3 linked regions of the Homo sapiens genome follow. The protein of the gene in region 2 interacts with the protein of the main gene of each other region in a pairwise test. Each region holds a gene or a part of one and is shown on either strand. Other genes may lie near its edges.

Region 1 (7,577 bases), on a different chromosome or scaffold from region 2:
GGAAGGGCCTTTTCAGTTTGGCCCCCATAGCCCAGATGGATTAGAAGCCCGAGAAGCTTACCCAAATGAATCCCCCCAGAATTACTTCTGTACTGAGCATGCCCAAAATAGACACACTCAGCTGGAGGGGCGGAGAGGCTTCCTCAGACGGCAGGCAGGTGGAACACTAAGCTGGGCGTCAGGCAACTGCCCGTATGTCTCTGTCTTGCTAGTAACTCCAGGCATGACACCCCTGTCCCAAACTTCATTAAGTCACCAAAACTCTGCTGAGGTCTCTTCTGGGCGCTGGGGACAGAGGAATCAGACTGGCCCCTAACACTGACAGTGAATCCTCAGCACGCTCAAGACATGATAAAGGGAGGCCCAGAGGCTGGGGCTCAGAGGAGGCTGCCCAGAGCGGGGAACACTGGAGCTGGGTTTTGAAGCGTGTTTATTCGAAGTAGATGTTTTATTTGTATTTTGTCTGTTTGTTTTGTTTTTAGACAGGATCTCGCTCTGTTGCCCAGGCTGAAGTGCAGTGGCATGATCATACTTCACTGCAGCCTTGACCTCCTCGGCTCAAAAGATCCTCCTGCCTCAGTCTCCTGAGTATCTGGGACCACAGGCACACACTACCATGCCCAGCTAAATTTTTTATTTTTAGTAGAGACAAGGTCTCGCTATGTTGCCCAGACTGGTCTCAAACTTCTGAGCTCAAGTGATTCTCCTGCCTTGGCCTCCCAAAGTGCTGAGGCTATAAGTGTGAGCCACCAGGCCAGACCGGAGGTAGATGTTTCATAGGTGAGAAAGGGGGCAAAAAGTGCAGGCAAAGGAATGTGTCTTCCCTGGCTCTGAATGCCTCTTCTCAGGACTTAAGGATTCAGCACGCCTTGGACAATAAATTTATGTTTTTATTTAAATAGTATTTAATTTAAAATTATTATTAATAGGCCAGGCACGGTGGCTCACACCTTTAATCCCAGGCACTTTGGGAGGCCGAGGCAGGCGTATCACCTGAGGTCAGGATTTCGAGGCCAGTCTGGCCAACACGGAGAAACCCTATCTCTATAAAAATACAAAAATTAGCTGGGTGGCTGGGCGCAGTGGCTCACGCCTGTAATCCCAGCACTTTGGGAGGCCGAGACAGGTGGATCACCTGAGGTCAGGAGTTCAAGACCAGCCTGGCCAACATGGTGAAACCCCGTCTCTACTAAAAATACAAAAATTAGTCGGGTGTGGTGGTGCATGCCTGCAATCCCAGCTACTGGGGAAGCTGAGGCAGCAGAATAACTTGAACCCGGGAGGCGGAGTTTGCAGTGAGCTGAGATCGCACCACTGCCTTCCAGCCTGGGTAACAGAGCGAGACTCTGTCTCAAAAAAAAAAAAAAAAAAAAAAAAATTAGCTGGGCGTGGTGGCACATGCCTGTAGTCCCAGCTACTCAGGAGGCTGGGGCAGGATAATTGCTTGAATCCAGGAGGTGGAGGCTGCAATGAGCTGAAATCATGCCACCTCACTCCAGCCTGGGCGACAGTGAGACTCCATCTCAAAATAAAAATAAATAAATAAATAAATACATAAATAAATAAAATTATTATGATTAAATGGTTTCTGAGTAGCTCCTGTAATTGGGCTTTATTCTGAGAAGCACTGAAGAAAATCAGGAAAACACTGGAGTTCAGACTGGGATCTCCTTTCAGCTCCCATGTTCTTGCCCTGGGCAAGTCCCTTTCTTCTCTGGGCCCCCATTTCCCACTCTGTAAAATGGGGACAGTCCCTGGGCTGCCTGTTCACAGAAGCACTGTAAGGCTAAGGCTCTGTTCCTTGGAAGGAACATTAGGGATCCCATCTCACCCACTCTGCAGACTGGGCTCTCTACAGACCAAGGCTCACAGGGGCAGGAAAAAGTATTGCCTCCTTTCCCTTCCTTTCCTCCTCAGTCTTCCCACCGCCTGAGCTCAGTGACTGACCTGAGTCAGCTTCTTCCCCCCTCACCTGGTCCCCTTCCTTCTCAAAGGTGATGCGTGTGCCCTGCCTCCAACCGGGCTTCACATCAATGGTCAGGATCTTGTCCTTGATGGTGGAGGAGTACCCATCCTCGTTCAGCACCTATAGCAACATATCAGGTGTGGGGAGGTCTGCTTAGGACTTCCATGAGTACAGTCGAGATTTGCTCAGATTTTCATGAACACTCAGGTGACCTTTGCACACGTGAAAGATGCTCTATGGGATTTGTACTTGGGCTCAATCCTCTAGCAATGGGAAGAGCCTCCAGCAATGGGGAGAGCCTGCCCTGAGCCACTCCCACTCCCATCCTGTTGCCATGACAACCAAGAACTTATGATTCCAGTATGGCAGAGGATGCCATGAGACTGGGGCTGGGGGCTGAGATGCCAAGCAGTCACCATTAGTTGATCAAACACACAGCTCCAGCCCTGGCCACTAACAGATACATGGTGAAAATGTACTCCATTCCTCTCTCCAAATCCCAGAGGCCCGGCCCTGAGCCTCCAGCAAGTCTCTTAATCCCAAAGAGAGAAATGAAAGTCAACATATCTAAGCCTCCCCCAGTGCATTCCCCACTGGGGATCCTTCCACTCCCCAGTCGCATGTCCAGATGGGTTCCATCTGTGGAAAGCATGGCCGCATCGGCATCTCCTCTGCTGGGCAAAGGTGGAGGGGGCTTGCTCTTATGCCTGGCACAGGGCTGGGCCATGGGACAGGGCCAAGCCAAGGACTAGACATGAGGCACTGAGGGTCTTCCTCAACCCGTCACCTTGGGGACTATCTCCCAGCCCACCCTCCATGCCCACTGTTCTTTCTTATGCACGAGGCATGCACCCTGATGAAATCCTGGGAATATGGTCTGGTAAAGCCCAGAAGGAAGAATTCAGAAGAGACTCCTCCCATTCAGAGCCTTTCCAGTTCCCACGGGGATGGGGCTGAACTGAAAGAAAGGAAGGGAAAGAGCCTGTCCCAGTTGGGAAGGCTGCAGAGGGCACTCCTGCACTAGGAAAGAACCGGGCTAATGTCTTCAACTGTCCCTTCCGAATTTCAGATTCCGGAATTCTAACATCCTAGGTCTCTGAATCTAAGGTTCCATAATTCCATCAGAGACCATCCCTGAGTCCTCCCACCCAGGTAAGGGAGGAGGCAGCTGCTAGGCTGCAGGAGATAGGTGGCTCCCGGGAGGAGCAAGCTGAGTACTCACCCTTCTGGAGATCTTAATTTTTTTGGTGCAGCCAAAGAATAAGTCCTCCAGGGACAGGTAGAGATCCCGTTCGACTTGGGGGTCCTGCTTCTTGACCCCTCGGCCCTGGAGCCCCCCAAAGTTCAAATCTACCTCACTTCCTTCTGCATCAAAAAACTCTGCAGGAGGTAGGGAGAGGAGTAAGAGAAATTGTATCCAGAGACCCAGACATGCGCGCGCGCGCACACACACACACACACACACACACACACACACACACACACACACACAGCCTCCCTATCCAGATATGCTCCCCAACCTCTTCAGTGTCCTGTGTAACACCCAGCATCCTATAACCACCTCTCAGACTGGCCAAGCCAAGGAGCTGTCTTCAACTGCAGATGCAGTGATTATCATCCTTTGCCATTTCCCACTGCTTCACCTCCCCTTGGGACATTCCCCCCCCACCCCGCCCAACGCTTCCCCGTCTCTCTTATTCACAACTCGGATACCGTAACTCTGGCTGTCTCAGGAAAGGGAGGCACTCCCTCTGGTGGCCGCGCTCAGGAGTGCCAGAAGAGACTGCTGGTAGTCCTCGGCAGGAAGGTGAGAGCCTGCCAGTCCTCTCTACTCTTCCCCAGACTCCATAACCCTTCGCTGTCCAGCCCAGCCCAAGATTGCTAAAGACCCCAGACTCAAGTTTCTATAAAGCTGTCAGCTGAGATGGGGGAGGGAAAGGGTTGGTCCCTAACAATTTGAGAGGCCACCGGCATTCCCCAAACTCCTCTTTCCTCAATTTCTTTTGCCCCTGCCCAGCTCTGCACCCATAACCCCTCTTGCTGCCCCCATCCTTCCTCCCAGTGCAAAGACAGCCCCATCCTGGCTCTGCCCCTGATGTGCTGTGTGATCCGTGGGCTTCAGTGTCTTGGTCTGTGGGATGGGGTAATAATGCCTGACCTGCCTTCCACCATTAAGATGAAGAGCTAAAACTTGCTGAGAGCTTACTATGCGTCAGGTGCTATTTTTGGAACCTTACATTATTATTTCATTGGTCCAGGGAGCCCAAACAAAACGCTTAAGGTCCCGTAGCTAGTAAGCAGTAGAGTTGGGATCTGAACCACAGGACAATATGACTACGGAACCTGTGTCCTTAACCACTGTGCCACGCCGCATCGCTAGATGTGGAAGCCCCTCATAAGCTGTAAACTCGAGGGGCGCTATGGTTAAGAGTTTTCATATTCTGCCTCTCATGGTTAATGCCATGGAATGAACTTCACAGGCTAGAATGGTGAAATGACCTTAGGCAGGGATGGTGAGGTGACTACACTATGTCCCTCTAAGATGCGATGGGCAATCAAGAGGCCTGAATCTTCTGGTCCTCCTGTTGCATTGCTGAATTCACTTGTTCACCCAGACCTACAGTGTACCAGGCAGTAAACACCCCAATAGCCAGTCCACAGGAAGCCCAGCCCCTCAACCCTGCAGGGAGATGGGACTCAGGAACCCTTGGGGTGGAGCACTATGGCAGTATAGCTTCTGGGCACTGCCTGAGGAAGCCCAGACCCTGAGCCTGACCTTTCCCAATGAGCGATGCCCTGTAGACTCACTTGGCTCCTTTGAACTGAGACAGGTAGGGAGGCAAGGTCCACTGTATGGCATTTTTGGACTGCAAAGCCCCTTTCATTTTTTTTCTTTTTTCTTTTTTTTTTTTGAGACAGAGTCTCAATCTTGTTGCCCAGGCTGGAGTGCAATGGCGCAATCTCGGCTCACCACAACCTCCACCTCCTCGGTTCAAGCGATTCTCCTACCTCAGCCTCCTAAGTGGCTGGGATTGCAGGCATGCACCACTGTGCCTGGCTTTGTTTTTTTGTTTTTGTTTGTTTGTTTGTTTTTAGTAGAGATGGGTTTTCTCCATGGTGGTCAGGCTGGTCTTGAACTGCCGACCTCAAGTGATCCGCCGGCCTCAGCCTCCTGAAGTGCTGGGATTACAGGTGTGAGCCACCATGCCCGGCCGATTGCAAAGCCCCTTTTCATAAACATTATCTCATCTGATAATAGCCCTTGAGCCTTAATGATTATTTTGGCTATGTAATGGTTAGGAAGCTGGGGTTTCAGAGGGGTGAAGAAATTTTCCCAGGATCACACGGTTCACAAATGGCAGCGCATGGATTGGAAACAGGCCCGCTACTCGAAGCCCCTTGCTGTTTTCAGTCTCACGTGGAGCTTATAAACTCAGCTTCTTCTGGCAGACACGTGAGGGTGGCACAAGGTGGGAGCAATCTCTGAGGCAGAGGGGCTGTAACCCACATATTGGCACAGAAAAGAGAAGGAAAGAACTTATGAAGTTCAGAAAGGCTGAAGTATAGTCAGGGAGAAGGGGCAAGAGGTGTAGGAGAAAACAGGCAGTGAAAAATCTAGGCCTTATGTGGGTATAACTGGAGCCAGGAAGTCAGGTGTGAAGGTCTTTTCACTGCCTTTGCAAGATGATTCTGAGCCTCAGAAATCAACTCTTGGTCAGTTTGTCTCAGACCTGGAATCACGCACCCATCCACCTACTCAGCCATCCTTCCGCCTACCCAGCCATCCATCCGCCTACCCAGCCATCCATTCATTTACCCAGCCATCCGTCCGCCTACCCACCCACCCACCCACCATGTGCTCGTCTATTCATTCATACACCCACTCATCCATTCATCCATCTGTCCTTCCTTCATTTCATGCATCCACCCATCCACACTCACTCTTGTCAGATGCTAGGCTGGGATTTGGCTACGCTGAGATCAATCAGACCTGGAGGATCTCCCAGTCTGGTAGGGAGACAAGCATATTAGGGAAACTATAAATAGCACAAGAACTGTTTTAACTGCAAAAGAGACAAGAGGTATCTTCCCACAAATACAATATTAGCAAAAGACTGGGAAGAAACTACCCATCAATAAGACAGTAATTAAAAATAATAAATTAGACCTGGCATGGTGGCTCATGCCTATAATCCCAGCACTTTGGGAGGATGACGCAGGCGGATCACCTGAGGTCAGGAGTTCAAAACCAGCCTGGCCAGTCTTGAGTGGAAACCCCATCTCTACTCAAAATACAAAAATTAGCCAGGCATTCTGGTGCCCACCTGTAATCCCAGCTACTCGGGTGGCTGAGGCAGGAGAATCGCTTGAACCCAGGAGGCAGAGGTTGCAGTGAGCCAAGATTGTGCCACTGCACTCCAGCCTGGGCAACAGAGCAAGACTTTAATAATAATAAATTATAAAACATCCATGGTAGCCATGCTGGCACTTGGCATCTGCTCTGTCCTCCTTCTTGCATACCTTCCCTGCTAGAGAATCTGTAGAGCCAAAAGGAACATCCCCCAGACTCTCTTGCAGCTAAGGTTCTGGCTTTGAATTCTGTTCATCAGGTAGTTCCTGAGCTGCTTGGGAGGCAGGAAGAAGGCGGCAGGCATCTCTCCGTGGCTCTGTCTGGAGCTGGTGGGCACTGTTGTGGAGACACTAGGTTTTTCTGCAGCAGCCTTTGTGGGTCCACCCACGAGTTTCATGCCTGTCAGAGGCAAGTGAGGCAGCAGTTGCAGCTACATTCATGGTGTGCTCTGGAATGCAACGGTGACATTTCCTGATTCCTTCTTTGTGACTGTGGCAGAGACAGCAGCTCTCCTTGTGGGCCAGTTTAGAGGTGGTGTTCTTGGAAGATTTCCTACAGGGCCAGCTTACAGCCTTCTCACCCAGGCCTTTCAATGATTATTTCTTTATTTATGTATTTTATTTTTTTGAGACAAGGTCTCAATCTGTCACCCAGGCTGGAGTGCAGTGGCCCGATCTTGGCTCACTGCAGCCTCAACCTCCTGGGCTCAGGCGATTCTCCCACCTCAGCCTCCTGAGTAGCTGGAACTACAGATACACACCACCATTCCTGGCACATTTTTTTGTAGAGATGGGGTTTGGCTATGTTGCCCAGGTTGGCACCGAATTCCTACACTCAAGCAATCCAGCCACCTCAGCCTCCCAAAGTGCTGGGATTATAGGAGTGAGCCACCACACCTGGCCTCGGTGATTTTTTAAAGCACCTAATTCCCTGTTTTGAACCCCTTTCTGCTTCACGTGGCTAAAACAGTATTTGCTTCTGCAATGGATCCCTAATAGACATCTGTACAATGAAATCTTATGCAGATCTGTACATAGTATATAGATTTGCATGTAAGTGAATAAAGTAGATCTATATATAGTATAACATATAAGATAATCTCCAAGATATATTAAGTGAAAAAAAAAATCATTGTGTAAAATTTGGCCCTATTTCCTTAATAAAAGGCTTCTGTAAAAATAAATACAGCTCATACAAGCATGGCAAGTTTCTGGAAGGATACATAAACTGTTTACTAATAGCTGCTTCCCTAGTAGCTGC
Region 2 (7,451 bases):
AAGCTACTGTTACTTTGAGCTTTTTAACTGCTACAGAAATCAATCCCTGTATGAAAATATATAGTTTAGGATAATTTTCTGGTGGCAGTAATAGGAATCATTCAAAGCTATGTAAAGCAAAAAAGGGAGAATTATTTTAAGGACAGAAGGATTTCTCACAGAACCTATGGGAAGGGATGAAGGAAGCCTCAGTAATAGAGCGATAGCTGGAATTAAAAAGTAAGGGGAGGCCAGGAAGCCCTCTCACTGTGTCTCATCTCTCCTTCTCTTCCTTCTTACTGAAAATTATTTACACAGTTGTCACAGAGAAGCTACAAATAAATATTTGTTTGATGGATGGCAATTTGTGTGTGTGATAAACTGGATCTAAAGTCAATTCTCAAAACGTTTTGTTATATATATGTAGCTTGTTAAAGTGATTCTTTTGAAGGGGGGAATCATACTTTTTAGAGTCTAAGCTCTCTCTTAAACCCTTTCTCTCAGCTTTCCAATTTTTCCCAGTCACTTATTCCAACATCAGAAAGGGGGCCTGAAATACAGGATTGTCCATAATTAATATCATGACAGACACTTTTGAGATTGCTCTGCTTTTTTACAGGAGTTGCAAAAGTCAGTTTTTATGAGAACACAAGCACTGGCACTCACTGACTATTTTGGCAGACAAGGAAATGATAGATTAATTACTTTTGGTACATTTTTCCCATAACTGTCTTTTTTTTCCATTTCATTTTTGCATTGTTACTATTTACCAGTCTGAGTTCTCACTTACACCTAGTTTTTGCCCTTCAGGGTTTCTTATATTCTTGCCAACTCTTTGATATGCTTGATAAGATGTTTTATATATATTTATATATATTGCTTTGGGTTTGAGAATCAGCCAGAGCCTCTAGTCTGCCATACTACTGGACACAAAAGTTCAATATGTTTTCACTTCATTCGTTTATAAGATATTAACCTGCATTCCAAACACCAGGGCCCTAACTCTGGTGGCCTAAGCTCCCCATCCACAAAAATGAAGAATAACTACCTTTCCACCTGCATCAAATTGTTTTTTGTACAAGACTCATGTAATCATTAACATGAAGTCAGTTTGCAACTGGAAAATACCATGAAAATACATTTTCTTAACTCTGAAAACAAAACAGAGGCAAACAAGTAATAAAAGTTATAACTAAGGGTAACAACCTTAGAATGGTTTGTTCAATTTACAATGTCTATATATTTGCACTCATCTGCTTTTTTTCTGGCCCAAGGTATAAATGAGAAAGTCTTAAGATAAAAAAAAAGCAATATTATTTTATACGTTATATTTGACACTAATTGTATAATTTACATTTTTAAAAAATAAAGAGAAAAAAATAAAGAGAAAAAGGCAACCTTGAGCACACTATAAAATCTTTCACTCTTTTTTTTTTTTTTTTGAGATGGAGTCTCACTCTTGTCACCCAGGCTGGAGTGCAATGGCGCGATCGGCTCACTGCAACCTCTGCCTCCCGAGTTCAAGTGATTCAAGGTTCAAGTGATTCTCCTGCCTCAGCCTCCCGAGTAGCTGGGATTACAGGTGCCAGCCACCATGCCCGACTAATTTTTTATGTTTTTGGTAGAAATGGGGTTTCACCATGTTGGCCAGACTAGTCTTGAACTCCTGACCTCAGGTGATCTGCCCACCTCAGCCTCCCAAAGTGCTGTGATTACAGGTGTGAGCCACCGCGTGCGGCCTTTTGTTTTGTTCTTTTGAGACAGGGTGTCACTCTGTCGCCCAGGCTGGAGTGCAGTGGCGTGATTTCGGCTCACTGCAGCCTCCGCCTCCCGGGTTCAAGTGATTCTCCCACCTCAGCCTTCCAAGTAGCTGGGACTACAGGTGTGTGCCACCATGCACAGCTGATTTTTTTTTTTTTTTTTGGTAGAGATGGGGATTCACCACGTTGGCCAGGCTGGTCTCGAACTCCTTACCTCAAGGATCTGCCCACCTTGGCTTCCCAAAGTGCTGGGATTACAGGCATGAGCCACCGTGCCCATCCAAATCTTTCACATTTTTAAATTTTGTGAAATAGCTGTCCTTTTTATATATGGGTAAGCTATCAAACTTAAGATGCTCACAGCCCTTTACATACTTTGTAGGCTGAGATTCTGAGTGTCTAATATTCTGTAATGTATCTTGGTCTCTGTGCTGCAAGAACACTGAAGTATTATTATAGGTAACAATCTATATCACTCTTCTCAAACAGCGCTAACAGGTTAAGTATTCAAGAGGAACATCTTTCAGTATATTTCAAAAAGCCTCATGGATGGTAGGTGATTTGTAAATGGACCAACGCAGGACTCAGGCATATATGGTTACTGCTTACTATTTCCTATAGATCATGATGTCTTAGGTCTTATGTAGAATATATCATAGGACTTGTCCTCTAAACATTCACATACCAAGACTGCACTCTGCATGCATGCCATTCACTCATTCTGCATTTACTGAGTCAGTCCTACTGCATGTCAGACCTTGTGCCTGTTCTCAAGAAGCTCGCAGTCCAGGAAAATGGAGAAATACAGATACAATTATAACTCTATGTGATAAGTGTTACAAAGAGATACGGTGTTATGGAAGCCCTGGTAGGGGCACTTAGCCCATACTGGAGTGGCTGGGATAGGGCTGAGTGGCCAACAATAGGGAAGGGTTCACAGTGGAATTGATGTCTAGGCTAAATAATGAATAACAAATAATTAGCAAGGCAAGGAAAAGGTAGGAGATCAAGACATAAAAATAAACAGCATATGGAAATACAGGGTTGTATGTGAGTACGGCAAGACTGGGGAGCCTAAGTGGTTTGCTGTATATTTAATTTATTCATTTCACGTAGCTACTATTGACATACTTGTCTCCCTATATATGTTTGAGTCCGTGGATGGTGGGGACTTTGTAATGGTTTCTCTGTCCCTATGTCTAACAGGAGGCACACAGATGGAGTGCAATAAAATGTCTGATGAATAAATGACCAGCTATGAGGTGTAAGGGAGAATAGGAATCCATTAATGAGAAAGGTCATTTCTAGTGGCAATGAATATCAGATAAGATAGATTTAAGAATTATTTAGAAATTAGGATGAATAAGACTTGGTGATATATTGGCGATGGGGTATAAAATAAGAAACACTGGCTTTCTAGGTTTCTGGATTACAGATGCATGATAATAGTTATAATGGTATAATAACAATAGCTAATATTTATTAGGCACTCTGTGTCATGAAGTACGCAAAGTGTTTACATGAATTAAGCCATTTAAACTCTTAATGACTCAGTGAGGCAGGTTCTGTATACTCATTCACTGATGAGAAAATTGGGGCTAGAGAGATTCATTTGCCTAAGGTCACTCAGCTAGCAGGTGGCAGGCTCAAGCCCAGTAATTCTGACTCCAACAACCATACATATAGTCTACTTTTCTTTACTGCCTCTAATAGATGAGATTAATACCCAGAATGATGGTCCTATTCAATAAGTGTATCACACAAATGCACGTTTCTCTTTTGCTAAACATAGAGACACATACTATGACTACCTCTATTATTATTATTTTTTTTTGATTTTTGGGATCTTGGCTCTTTCTGTATTTTTCCTACCTGGAAGACCTAAAGTGGGGTAGAAGTTTGATAAAACAGTTGGCACAAAAGATGAGAGAAGACAGGTACAGACATGACATTCTCGAACGCTCTGGCAGTTGCTGGAATGATGGGATCTGGGTTCTACAGGATTCCTCCCCTCCCATCTCCCGCCACACACACACACGTCGTAAGGTGTATATGGCCGCGGAGTCTCAGGTTGGTTCTAGGAGTCCTCAACCCACGGCAAAGGTGCCTCTTCTCCCTCCTGGAGAGCCCAACATGCTTGAAGTTAACCTGAGGCCGCCTCTCGGGCCCGGCGAAACAGAGCGCGGGCCCGACGAAACAGAGCGCGGGCCCGACGAAACAGAGCGCAGCTCCGGCTCGCGCTGGTTCCCAGGGAAACCGCCCGCGGAGGAACCTCGGGCCAGGGCCGTGACACCTGCGACGAGCCCCGCCTGGCGCCAGGGGGCGCGGAAGCGCGTCCGCCCCCAGGCCCCATGCCGGGCTCGCCCCGCCCCTGCCGGCCACACCCCCCTACCCCGCCCTCCCTCCGTGAGGACCGGCCGCTCCCGGCTCCCGGCCCCCGGCCCCGCTTCCGGCGCAGGCGCAGTCCCGCGTTCCCTCGGCGGCTGCCGGCGTAGTGAGCCCGCCGCCGTGGAGTGTAGCGGAAAGGGCTCGCCGTCCTCCTCCGTTTCTCGCTGCTTCGGGACGCGCTCTCTGCGGCTCTGTGAGCGCCCCTGAGCGCCGGCAGCGGCCGCGGTGGGTTCTTCAGGTGAGTGCGGCCGCGGGAGGGAGAGGCCCGGAGCGTAGAGCACCGCCCCCCTCGGCGCCCGCGCGCCCGCCTCTGGCGAGTCGGCCAGGAGGGGCGGCCGCGGCAGGTGCAGGTGCTGGCGCCGTGCAGGGCGCGGCACGCGGGGGTTCGGGGGGATGCCCAGGCCCGGTGAGCTCGCTCTCCGCCTGGGCACTTGGGCTCCGGGCCCTTGGGGGCGGCGTGTGGGGGGGACTTTGGCGACCCGGGTCAGCCGGCCGCCCCCTGGGCTGCTGGTGGGCGTCGGGCGGCGGCTCCTCCCCCGGGCACGGGCGCGTTACACATTAACTGCGCGGTCCCGCGCGCCCGGGGCAGGGAGCCCGAGTCCAGCGGGTTACCTGGCGGCGGGCGGGCGCGGCCGGGAGCGGAGGGCCGCGGTCGCGAAGAGGATGAAGAGAGAGTTCCCGAACAAGTCGGAAGCAGCTCACAACACCGGACGCCGCGCGGCAGGGCTGTGGACCTGGGGTGGTTTCGTGTCCCAGTCTTAGGAAACTACGCGCGAGGCACCGTGCTGAGGCGTAGAGGTCACCCTCGGGAGGTTTCGGTGAAACCTGGTGGGAAATTCCGGGCAGGCGCCCGGAGTCGCGCCCAAGTAGGCAGCTCCGTGCCGCCAGACTTGTGTTCGGGGGAGTTGAGACGAACTGCACGGGTGGGATTGCATGGCTCTGCCCTCCCAGCGTTGACAACTCGCCCCGACCGCCCAGGAAGCGCGAGCTTACTGGCTCCAGAAGTGATGATGCTGGGTGGAAGTCGCAGCATGTGAAGAGTTGCCGGTTGTTATGGGATTAAAAAAGATGAAAGGGTAAGGTCTTGAAAGACACGAGCGCTGAGTTAGTTAGTACTGATTACTGAGAGGCAATTTAGTTTCATGGAAATGTTGCCTGTTCGGAGGCTACCTGTTATACACTCTCCTGTTTCACCCCAACTCCTTCCGTTCAGTGTCGGGTTAAAAGCCTTGTAATCTCTTGCAGTGGAATGATTGCATAATTGGAGGAGGGGCCCATAAGAGGATTACAACAAAACTGTTCCATTGTAAATCAGTTGAAAGACCCAGTTCTTGTTCATTATCCTTTTTCTCATTTTGTTGTTCATGAAGGTTTTTTTTTCTTCCAGTGCTGAATGACAAATCAAGGAGAAAAGAGGCAGAATAGGGTTGTAGACCAATCGTAGTAAATATTTGATACTGTTAAATATTTCACCAGTTTTATGGGGCCTTGTTCTGTTATCATTTGTTATTTATTTACTAGTACTGTGCATTTTGATAGGACTTTTCATGTTTGGACAGACAGTGTATTCCAGATGCGGCTTATGTGATCTAATCCTAAAGCCCTTGTGGAATTTATAGAAATAAACAGTTATACAATTAAGTAGTCCATTTTTTAACTATTAAATGAAAAGCCATTGCATTTTTTTCCATTACAGTAATGTTACATATTAATGTATACCTTTGTGAACCAAAGTGTTTGATACAACTCTTCCTTCTGTGTTTGGTAAACAACTCATCTGTGGTACTGAATACTTGTAATCTTTCACCAGGATGGCCATTTAATGTTTAGCTGCTTTGTGGGATTTCTGAATAGATCCTATTGTACTTTTTGAATTAGTGCAGTTATCCATATGTTTCCTTTAATATTCTTTACCTTTGATTTTGTCTAAACTCTCATCCTCCCCCAACACACACATCCTCTACAAATAATTTTTAAAATGGAAAGGTTCTTAGAAATGTTTCACCCCCTCATTTTTTAAATATGGCACGAAAAAATACTTTGTAGATTACAGTAGTTTTATATGCATTATAGTAGTTACTATACTTTTTTCCTCCTCAACAGGAGTCAGTGAACAAATTAGTGAGCTGGCTGAATGAAAAATTATTTAATGTTCAGCTCCATCACTTACTGTGCATAAAACCTTGAGTAAAACATTTAACCTGTTTGAGCTTATTTTCTCCATTTGTCAGTGGAAATACTATTAGGTTGAAATTGCTAATATTCTGCTGTTTTTTATGTTTCAACCTAATATGAACTTCATAATGGTAAGATGAGGATTTAATAACATACTCCATTAGAGATGTGGGGAAGGGGAGAAGGAACCAGTGTGAGCTTGATTGTGTGCAAGGCACTGTGTGTGCTTGTTTTCGATACCTTGACTCCTCAGTCCTCTGGACATTCCCGGGATATAGGTGGTTTATCAAATTTTACAAGTCAGGAAATGGAGGCTTAGAAAGTTGCGATAATTTGTCTATGGTTACTTAGTTGTAGGTGGTCGTACAGCTGGCCAGTGACAGAGCCGGTATTAAAAACTGTATCCGACTGCCCAAAATGGAACGTAGTGCTTTTGTTTCTTACATTCCTGGTCTGCACCTTCTATTAAAGAGCTTTGTAACTATAAGGAGGCACACAGATGACAAGTGTTACCATTTGTATTTCTGGTTTAAAAATATCCAAGTTTTCTGAAGACGGTGATACCAGCATTGCTACTACAGTTACTTTTAAGTCTAGTGCTTATCAAGCGAAGTCCTGGTGTAAGCTTTATACTCATTTACTCTCAGAGTGAGCGAGGAGATAATACTTTATCCCTATTTTGTAGTTGAGAAAATTGAGACCCTGAGACCTTATGTAGTTTGCTCAACGTCACATAGTTAATTAAGTGACAGGTCTAGATTAGATGTCAGACAGTTTGTCTTCCATGTCTGTGCTCTTAACCACTACACTCTGTCATTTCTTCATGTATAAGTGGTAATGCTAAAGAATTGTTTGCTCATAATCACTACATTATCACTTCTTTATGTGTAGCTTATAATGCTGAAGAACTTTGTAATTTAGCTTTTATGAGATACGTAATGTTAATGTAATATGTAATTCTCATTGTGTCACCAGAGATTTTTTTAAATCAAATACTCATTGAGCATCTACTCTGCAAGTCACAGTAGGGGTTAAAGGAAACTGTTCTTAAGGAATATGGAAGGTAGGGCCTTATAATCATTCCCATATCTTTTATAAGTTCTTCAAAATGTAGAACGCACTTTACATATTTTAATGAATGTCAACTAA
Region 3 (7,483 bases), on a different chromosome or scaffold from region 2:
TCACCTAAGGTCAGGAGTTCAAGGCCAGCCTGGGGAAGACCCCCTGCCGTCTCTACAAAAAATTAAAAAATTAGCTGGCATGGTGGTACGTGCCTGTGGTCCCAGCTACTTGGGAGGCTGTAGTGGGAGGATGGCTTGAAGCCAGAAGACTGAGGCTACAGTGAGCCGTGACTGTGCCCCTGCACGCCAGCCTGGGCGACAGAGCAAGACCCTGTCCCCCCACCAAAACATTTTTTTTCTCTTGATCTATTTCACCAGTTTGAGTATGATATGCCTGCATGTAATTTTCTTTGTATGTGTTCTCTTCAGGTTTTGCTGAATTTCTTGATCTGTAAATCAGTATTTTTCACCACGTGTTTGGATTTGGAGCCATCATTTTGCAAAAATGTTTCCTTCCTAGACTCATACTCTCCTTCTGGAGCTCCGATCACACATGCTTTTGGCCATTTCATACTGTCCCATAGGTCTCTGAGGTTCTCTCCACTTTTCTTCAACTTTTTTCTCTTCTTCAGATTAAATAATTTCTATCCATCTGCCTTCAAGATCCCAAACTCCTGTTTTCTCCAATCTGTTAATCCAATTCAGTGAAATTTTCATTTCTGTTATTGTACTTTTCAGTTCTAGACTTTTCTTTTGATTCTTTTAGATACTTTGTTATTCTGCTGTGAATTTCTGATTCTTTACTCATTAAGACAATATTTTCATTTAATCCTTTGGACATATTATTTTTATTTATTTTGAGATGGAGTCTTGCTCTGTCACCCAGGCTGGAGTGCAGTGGCACTATCTTGGCTCACTGTAACCTCCACCTCCCGGATTCAAGCGATTCTCCTGCTTCAGCTTTCCGAGTAGCTGGGGCTACAGGCGTGCGCCACCACACCCAGCTAATTTTTGTGTTTTTAGTAGAGATGGGGTTTCACCATGTTGGCCAGGCTGATCTCAAACTCCTGGGCTCAAGTGATCTGCCCACCTCGGCCTCCCAAATTTCTGGGATTACAGGTGTGAGCCACCGTGCCCAGCCTCCTTTGGACATATGTAGAGCTGCTTTAGAATCTTTGTAAATACAGAATCTGGTTCATTGTAGGGGGATTGGTTTCTGTTAACTGCTTTTTTTTTTTCTTAACTATGGCTTACGTTTTCCTCTTTCTTTGTATGTTTAGTGATTTTTGTTTTTTTAGTGTATATTCAACACTGATAAATAACAAATGAGGGAGACTCAGGGTGCTCTTCCACTGAAAAATCCTGACTTTCGTTCTAGTTTGTAGTTCCATTACTGGACGTACCATGCTGGGCTGTGTAGGCTTAGCTTTAGGCTCTGTTTACTGAGCAATGTCCCAGGTGTCTCCCAGGCCCCTCTTACTTGGCAGGACTTAACCTCCAAACTCTGACCGTCTTGTGGATCGGGTCAGGGTTTTGCTTTAGACGTTGTTAAGGCGGGCCTGGAGTAGTCCTTATTCTAGGGGAGGGACTGGCAACCTCTGGCTCACAAGCCACATGTGTTGATGGCCTGTTTTTGTACAGCACTTAAAGCCAGGAATGGCTTTTATATTTTTAAAGAGTTGTTTAAAAAAAAAAAAAAAACAAGCAAAAATATGAAACAAAAACTGCATGTGGCCCACACAACCTAAAATACTTATCTGGGCCCTTTATAGGTCGTTTGCTGACCCCTGGGAATGTGATTCTCAATCTAGTGTCTCAGCTCAATGTCCTCAGTGTTAATGGCATTAAAAAGGTCTTGACTGGGCACGGTGGCTCGTACTCGTCATCCCAGCACTTTGGGAGGATTAGGCAGGAGGACTGCTTGAGGCCAGGAGTTCAAGACCAGCCTGGGCAACAGAGTGGGACCCTCTCTCTACAAAAAAAGAAAAAATTAGCCGGGCGTGGTGGCACTCACCTGTGGTCCCAACTACTTGGGAGGCTGAGGTGGGAGGATCACTTGAGCCCAGAAGTTCTAGGCTGCACTGAGATAACGATCAAACCACTGCACCCCAGCCTAGGTGACAGAACAAGACTGTCTGAAAAGAAAACAAAACGGAAAGTCCTTTCCTGTAGCACTACTGGACCTCTAGTCTTTGTGCCATCCTCAACTCTGTAACAGCCGCTTCCTGGTAAACCCATAGAGTCGTCCCACACGTGTAGTCCAGCCTAGGCCAAGGACTTTCAGGGAACCCTACATCGACTTCGGCTCCCCACTCTTGCTAAGCTTCTTCCCCTCCAGTGCCCTGCCTTGCCGGCCTGCTGCTTTAGCTGCCCAGAAGTCTGGTCTCTTGCCTCTCACACCATTACAGTGCACCACACTACACTATGTTCACACATTTAGCAGCTGTGTTCACACCCAAACTATCTCATATATACATTTTGTTAAAAAAAACTTCAGGACTCTCTAAACTTATGATGCCAAGGGTGAAGTTAAGCCCTGGAGACTGAGTCAGTAGCAAGTTTGCAATTCTGCTTCTTCGATTACAGTTTAATGCTCTTCCTCCTTGTTCTTGAGCACAAGTGTCTTCCTCATTGTGGCTGCTCTGTAAATCAGGGCTCCCCGACCGCCAGGGCCACAGACACATACCGGTCAGGCCACACAGCAGGAGGTGAGCTTCAGGCCAGGGAGCAAAGCTTCATCTGTATTTACAGCTGCTCCCCATCGCTGGCATTACCGCCTGAGCTCCGCCTCCTGTCAGGTCAGCAGCAGCGCTGGATTCTCCTAGGAGGGTGAACCCTGTTGTGAACTGCACATTGGAGGGGTCTAGGTTGCGTGCTCCTTATGAGAATCTCATCCCTAATGATGTGTCCCTGGCTTCCATCATCCCTAGATGTGACCGTCCAGTTGCAGGAAAACAAGCTCAGGGCTCCCACTGATTCCACATTATGGGAAGTTGTATTTTATTACATATTACAACATAAAAATAATAAAGTGCACAATAAATGAAATGTGTTTGAATCGTCCTGAAACCACCCCAACTTTGTCTGTGGAAAAACTGCATTCTATGAAACTGGTCCCTGGTGCCAAAAAGGTTGGGGACTGCTGCTGTTAATGACTAAGAAAGACCAGGTCTCCCCCTTCCCATTTGGTGATTTTTGTTACAGATTAGCTGTCTCCATTGTCCTGTACCTGACTTAGACCAGACAGCACAGAGACCCCAGGACTGTTTCATCTTCAGTGGGTCCCCAAAGAAAAAGACCACCTCGACTAAACAGACTGTTGTAACTATGCATTAGGCCTTATACAGAAAAGACGCTGAAATTCGGTTAGGCTTCCCGAGACGCTGGCTATAGAAACGACCCCAAATTTCTACGTTTGAGAACACTGACTTCCATTCTTTATAATGTTTCCTGGGCGCCTCAAGCTTCGCATTTGACTAAACTCTAGATTCTGACCCTTTTGATTATTTTTGGTTGACAGTTTTTGTCATTTTATGGCTGGGAGTGATGGCTCACACCTGTAATCTCAACACTTTGGGAGGCCAAGGCTGGAGGATCACTTGAGCCCAGGAGTTTGAAACCAGCCTGGAAAACATAGTGAGATCCCGACAAAAGAAAAGAAAAGAAAAAAATTAGCTGGGCGTGGTGGCTGCCCCCGTGGTCCCAGTTACTGGCGGAGGGGGTGGGGCGGGGGGAAACAAGGCGGGAGGATCGCTTGAGCCTGGAAGGTGGAGGCTGCAGTGAGCCGTGTCCCGCCACTGCACTCCAGCCTGAGCCAACTGAGGAAGACCCTGCTCCAAAGAAAAAAAGAAAAAGAAACACCCGCGCCCCGCCCCCCCCGTTTACGTGCACAAGAAGCCCATATGCAGTTAAGTGTGAGGTTTATTTTGTGGCATTCCGAAATGCCGAGGGCCAGGTCCCCACAAAAACATTTGCGGCGTGAGGGAAACGGGAAGAGCCCAGCGGTAGGCGGAAGGCACGCGCCGGGGACACTCAGCGGCGAGGGCCTGCGGGAGCCCCCAGCGCGATAAGGAGCCCGGCCGGGGAGCAGCGGCCCGCCGCGGGACGCCCGAGCTGCGGGGAACGCGAGGGCAGCGAGGCCGGCGTCTCTGGTCCGGGAGCGTCCAGGCTCGCTCACCGCGCGCGAGGCCCGCCTGCCGAGTCCTGGCCTCAGCTCCGGCGCAGGGCCCAGCGGGGCGCCCACTGCCGAGGGAGGAAGATGGACGTGTCCCGGGAGCCCCGCTCCGCCTCCCACTTCCCACCTCCCGGTCCCGCGCGGCCGGCCCGGGCGCACTTCCGTCGGAGGCGAAGCGCGGCGAAGACCCGCCCCGTGAAGCCTCGCGCGCCCCGGAAATGGTCATGCGGCGGCGCCGAGGCCGGAAGTGGCTGAGGCCGGCAGCAGCGGGCGGCAGCTGCGGCGCAACCGGCTCCGGAGCTGCCTGGCGCGGCCGGGCGGGCGGCGCCGCTCAGGCTCGGGCTCCGGCTGGGCCCGGCGCGGCCTCGGGGCTGCCCATGGGGCGCGGGGGGCCGGGCCGGTGACGCCGGACGCCCATGGACGCCTCTGAGGAGCCGCTGCCGCCGGTGATCTACACCATGGAGAACAAGCCCATCGTCACCTGTGAGTGCCCGGAGGCGGGGAGGGCGCGGCGGTCGTTGGGCGGGCCCGGGCCCTGGCGTTATGCACCCGGCGCCCCCAGACCTTCAGCCCCCGGCGCGCTCCGGGCTGGGCCGCTTCCTGGAGGTGTGACCAGGGCTGCGGCTGAGGCGGGGCCCTCTGACTTTTCGGGGACGCCCTCTGACCTTCCCGCCGGGCGACCTCTGACCCCTGGGGGGCGCCCTCGGGCCGGCTGCAGTTGGAGCCGGTGGAACCCGGCGGACTCTGCCCGGGACTGGGCGCGCGCCGGCGTCGAGGGCGAGGAGCGGGGGCTGCCACCGCCCCGTCCCGCCCCCGTTGAGCCGCGCGCCCGGGACCTGGGGGCCCCGGCCTCTTCCGCCGGGCGGTTTTGCCCGCGGGCGCCCTTTCCCCGACTACGGGGAAGTCCTTGGGGGCTCGCAGAGTTGCAGGCGTTGGCGAAGTAGGAACAGTTTGTTGCGGGGTGAAGCGTCAGGCAGAGCCGCCGGGACTGCTTTCGCTCCTACACACTTCCCCGCCGCGCACTCAAACCATTTTACGGATGAGAAAGCCGAGGCTCGGGCGCTTAGGCGAGCTTGCTCCCCATGAACAGCCTCCCGCTCGAGTCTACACTACGGACACCTGGTGCCTCTTGGGTGTCGTGTCCTCCCCGCACCCCTCCTTTAATGCATACACAAAGGAACTGTTTTTCTGTTACGGGAAAAATGTTCCCTAAATTTTAGAAGTGTGACTCTCCAGAGTTAAATACGGTTAAGAACAGTGAGCTTATGGGAAGTATTGAAATGTTTGTTGGTTGGCTTTTAGGTGACTTGCAGAGAGGTGTTTCAGACTGTTACGATTTTTGACCTTTGACAGTATTCTGTATTTTCATGCATGTATGCAGTTAGTTTTTTTCTAGTTGTCTTTCGTGCTTGGAAAGGAAGCACTCTCTGTTGCAAAATCTGGGTGCCCAGGCCACAGTAGACTGTATGTCGTGAGAACTCCTGTTTCCCTCTCACTCTGTCAGCGGGTGTGCACCTGCTGTGTTCCTTCCTGTTAGATCCCTGAGAAACTGTATATTGAAGGTTGAATTTTGTTGCTTCAGCTTTAGGTGATAGACTTATTTCTTTCCTTCCTTTTGCTTTATTTTGTCTCTTCTCCTCTCCTCCTCTCTCTTTTTTTTCTACAGAGACCTAGACGAGATGATAGACTTTTCTTAGGGAAGTGGACTGTGTCTCATTTAAAATTGGAGACTTGCATAGTTCAGCAGTAGCTGTCTTTTTTCCTCCCCAGAATATTTGTCAGCTGAAAGTCTTTTCCTACTCTGCACCTTCAGCCCCAGAGGGCAGATGTGGGTAGAGCTGGTCTGCAGGCCCTGCAATTTCCCAGGGGCTTTCCCAGTGCTCAGGGAAGATGAAGCCATGCGCAGTTCATGTTAAGTTTTACTGTCTTCCAGAGGTTGAACATTTTTCTCCTAAAGTGCTGTGCACGTTGTGAATGCTGGATACACATTCATTGCCTGTACGGACATCCACACATCTAATTTTATCTTCTACCTCCTAGCTTGCTTACATTTCAATAGCAATATGTATTTATAGGCATTATGTAAATACATTTCTGAGGAGAAAGTTCCTAAGCTCTATTGGATTCAACCATAACTAAAGGGGTAAAGTTTGTTATCTGGTTGCCAGTGTTGGAGATATTTAATGTTTAGTTTTGTACATGCGTGCATCACGGACAGCTGAAGGATGCGGTTTTCTTTCCTACAGATTTATTGGATTGTCATCTTGGTGGTGGGTTTTTTCCTGTGTTTTGAGCAGCAGAGTGAATTTTTTTTTTTCCTTCTTCTTCTTTTTTGAGACGGCGTCTTTCTCTGTCGCCCAGGCTGGAGTGCAGTGGCATGATCTCGGCCATGATCTTGGCTCACTGCAACCTCTGCCTCCCGGGTTCAAGCGATTCTCCTTCCTCGGCCTCCCGAGTAGCTGGGATTACAGGCGCATGCTGCCATGCCCGGCTAATTTTTTGTTTGTTTGTTTTTGTTTTTTTTTTTTTTCAGTAGAGACAGAGTTTCACCATGTTGGTGAGGCTGGTCTCGAACTCCTGACCTTGGGTTGTCCACCTGCGCAGCCTCCCGAAGTGCTGGGATTACAGGCTTGAGCCCCCACCCTTGGCCTCAAGCAACATAGTGAATGTTAATCTCTGCATGGATGGTACACTGTCCTAGAAGGTGCAAACTTTCATTCATTGGAGTCTCAGAAGAGAAGGGGGCTTCAGTAGACTGTCAAAGTTAACTTGAAAAATGATCACTTTAAAAGTGAAGGTAAAAAGCTGACTTCATACTTCCCACTTGAAATTATGTTGTGGTATATCTGGGACTGAAGCTTTAGGAAGCACTTGGCCTGGTTTCACTTTATGCCTTCATCTTGCTCCTCTCTTTCAGCTATACATGTTTTGAAAGGAGAAGGTGGTATGAACAATTGCTTTAAAAAAATCCACCCAGAGGCTAATTAACCCTTAACTTTTTAATATTATGTACATAGTTCTCTTAGTAGGCAACATTTTTGTTTTCAAAAATCTTTTAAATTCTTACTTGAAATGGTATTACCTCAGATCTGTTCATTTTAAAATGAAAGTAGAGTTTATGCATGTTGTGAATTTTTTTTCCATAGAATGTATAATATTTTACTTCAGTGAAAATGCATTCTGCTTAGACCTTTCTGGGAAGAATATAGAATGTAACTGGTTCAGGTGAATTTAAAAACTGTGTATATGTAGGGATAGAAGAATGAAAAGTTCCCAAAGATTAAGGGTAATTAGAATAGATTATTACTTTAAAACCTAGCTGATTATTTCACTTCATTTTATTATTATTATTTTTTTAGAGATGGGGTCTCGCTCTGTCACCTAGGCTAGAGTGCAGTGGCATGGTCATAGCCGACTGCAGCCTTGCTG

The links.
Region 1: the proteins of RAB3IP (region 2) and DNAJB13 interact in binary tests that used the Homo sapiens proteins (3 or more experiments, as listed by UniProt).
Region 3: the proteins of RAB3IP (region 2) and TRAPPC10 interact in binary tests that used the Homo sapiens proteins (3 or more experiments, as listed by UniProt).

Annotation. Positions count from the first base shown.
Region 1 is NC_000011.10:73,960,647-73,968,223, reverse strand, and holds part of DNAJB13 (dnaJ homolog subfamily B member 13), read right to left. Parts: intron 6,717-7,577; coding exon of another isoform or gene 6,496-6,716; exon of another isoform or gene 6,361-6,495; intron 3,347-6,360; coding exon 3,189-3,346; intron 3,180-3,188; exon of another isoform or gene 2,888-3,179; coding exon of another isoform or gene 2,819-2,887; intron 2,087-2,818; coding exon 1,973-2,086; intron 286-1,972; coding exon of another isoform or gene 253-285; exon of another isoform or gene 1-252. UniProt on the Homo sapiens protein: Functions as part of axonemal radial spoke complexes that play an important part in the motility of sperm and cilia.
Region 2 is NC_000012.12:69,734,667-69,742,117, forward strand, and holds the start of RAB3IP (rab-3A-interacting protein isoform alpha 1), read left to right. Parts: upstream 1-4,193; 5' UTR 4,194-4,365; intron 4,366-4,714; exon of another isoform or gene 4,715-5,180; coding exon of another isoform or gene 5,181-5,203; intron 5,204-7,451. UniProt on the Homo sapiens protein: Guanine nucleotide exchange factor (GEF) which may activate RAB8A and RAB8B. Promotes the exchange of GDP to GTP, converting inactive GDP-bound Rab proteins into their active GTP-bound form.
Region 3 is NC_000021.9:44,008,024-44,015,506, forward strand, and holds the start of TRAPPC10 (trafficking protein particle complex subunit 10), read left to right. Parts: upstream 1-4,285; 5' UTR 4,286-4,470; coding exon 4,471-4,537; intron 4,538-7,483. UniProt on the Homo sapiens protein: Specific subunit of the TRAPP (transport protein particle) II complex, a highly conserved vesicle tethering complex that functions in late Golgi trafficking as a membrane tether.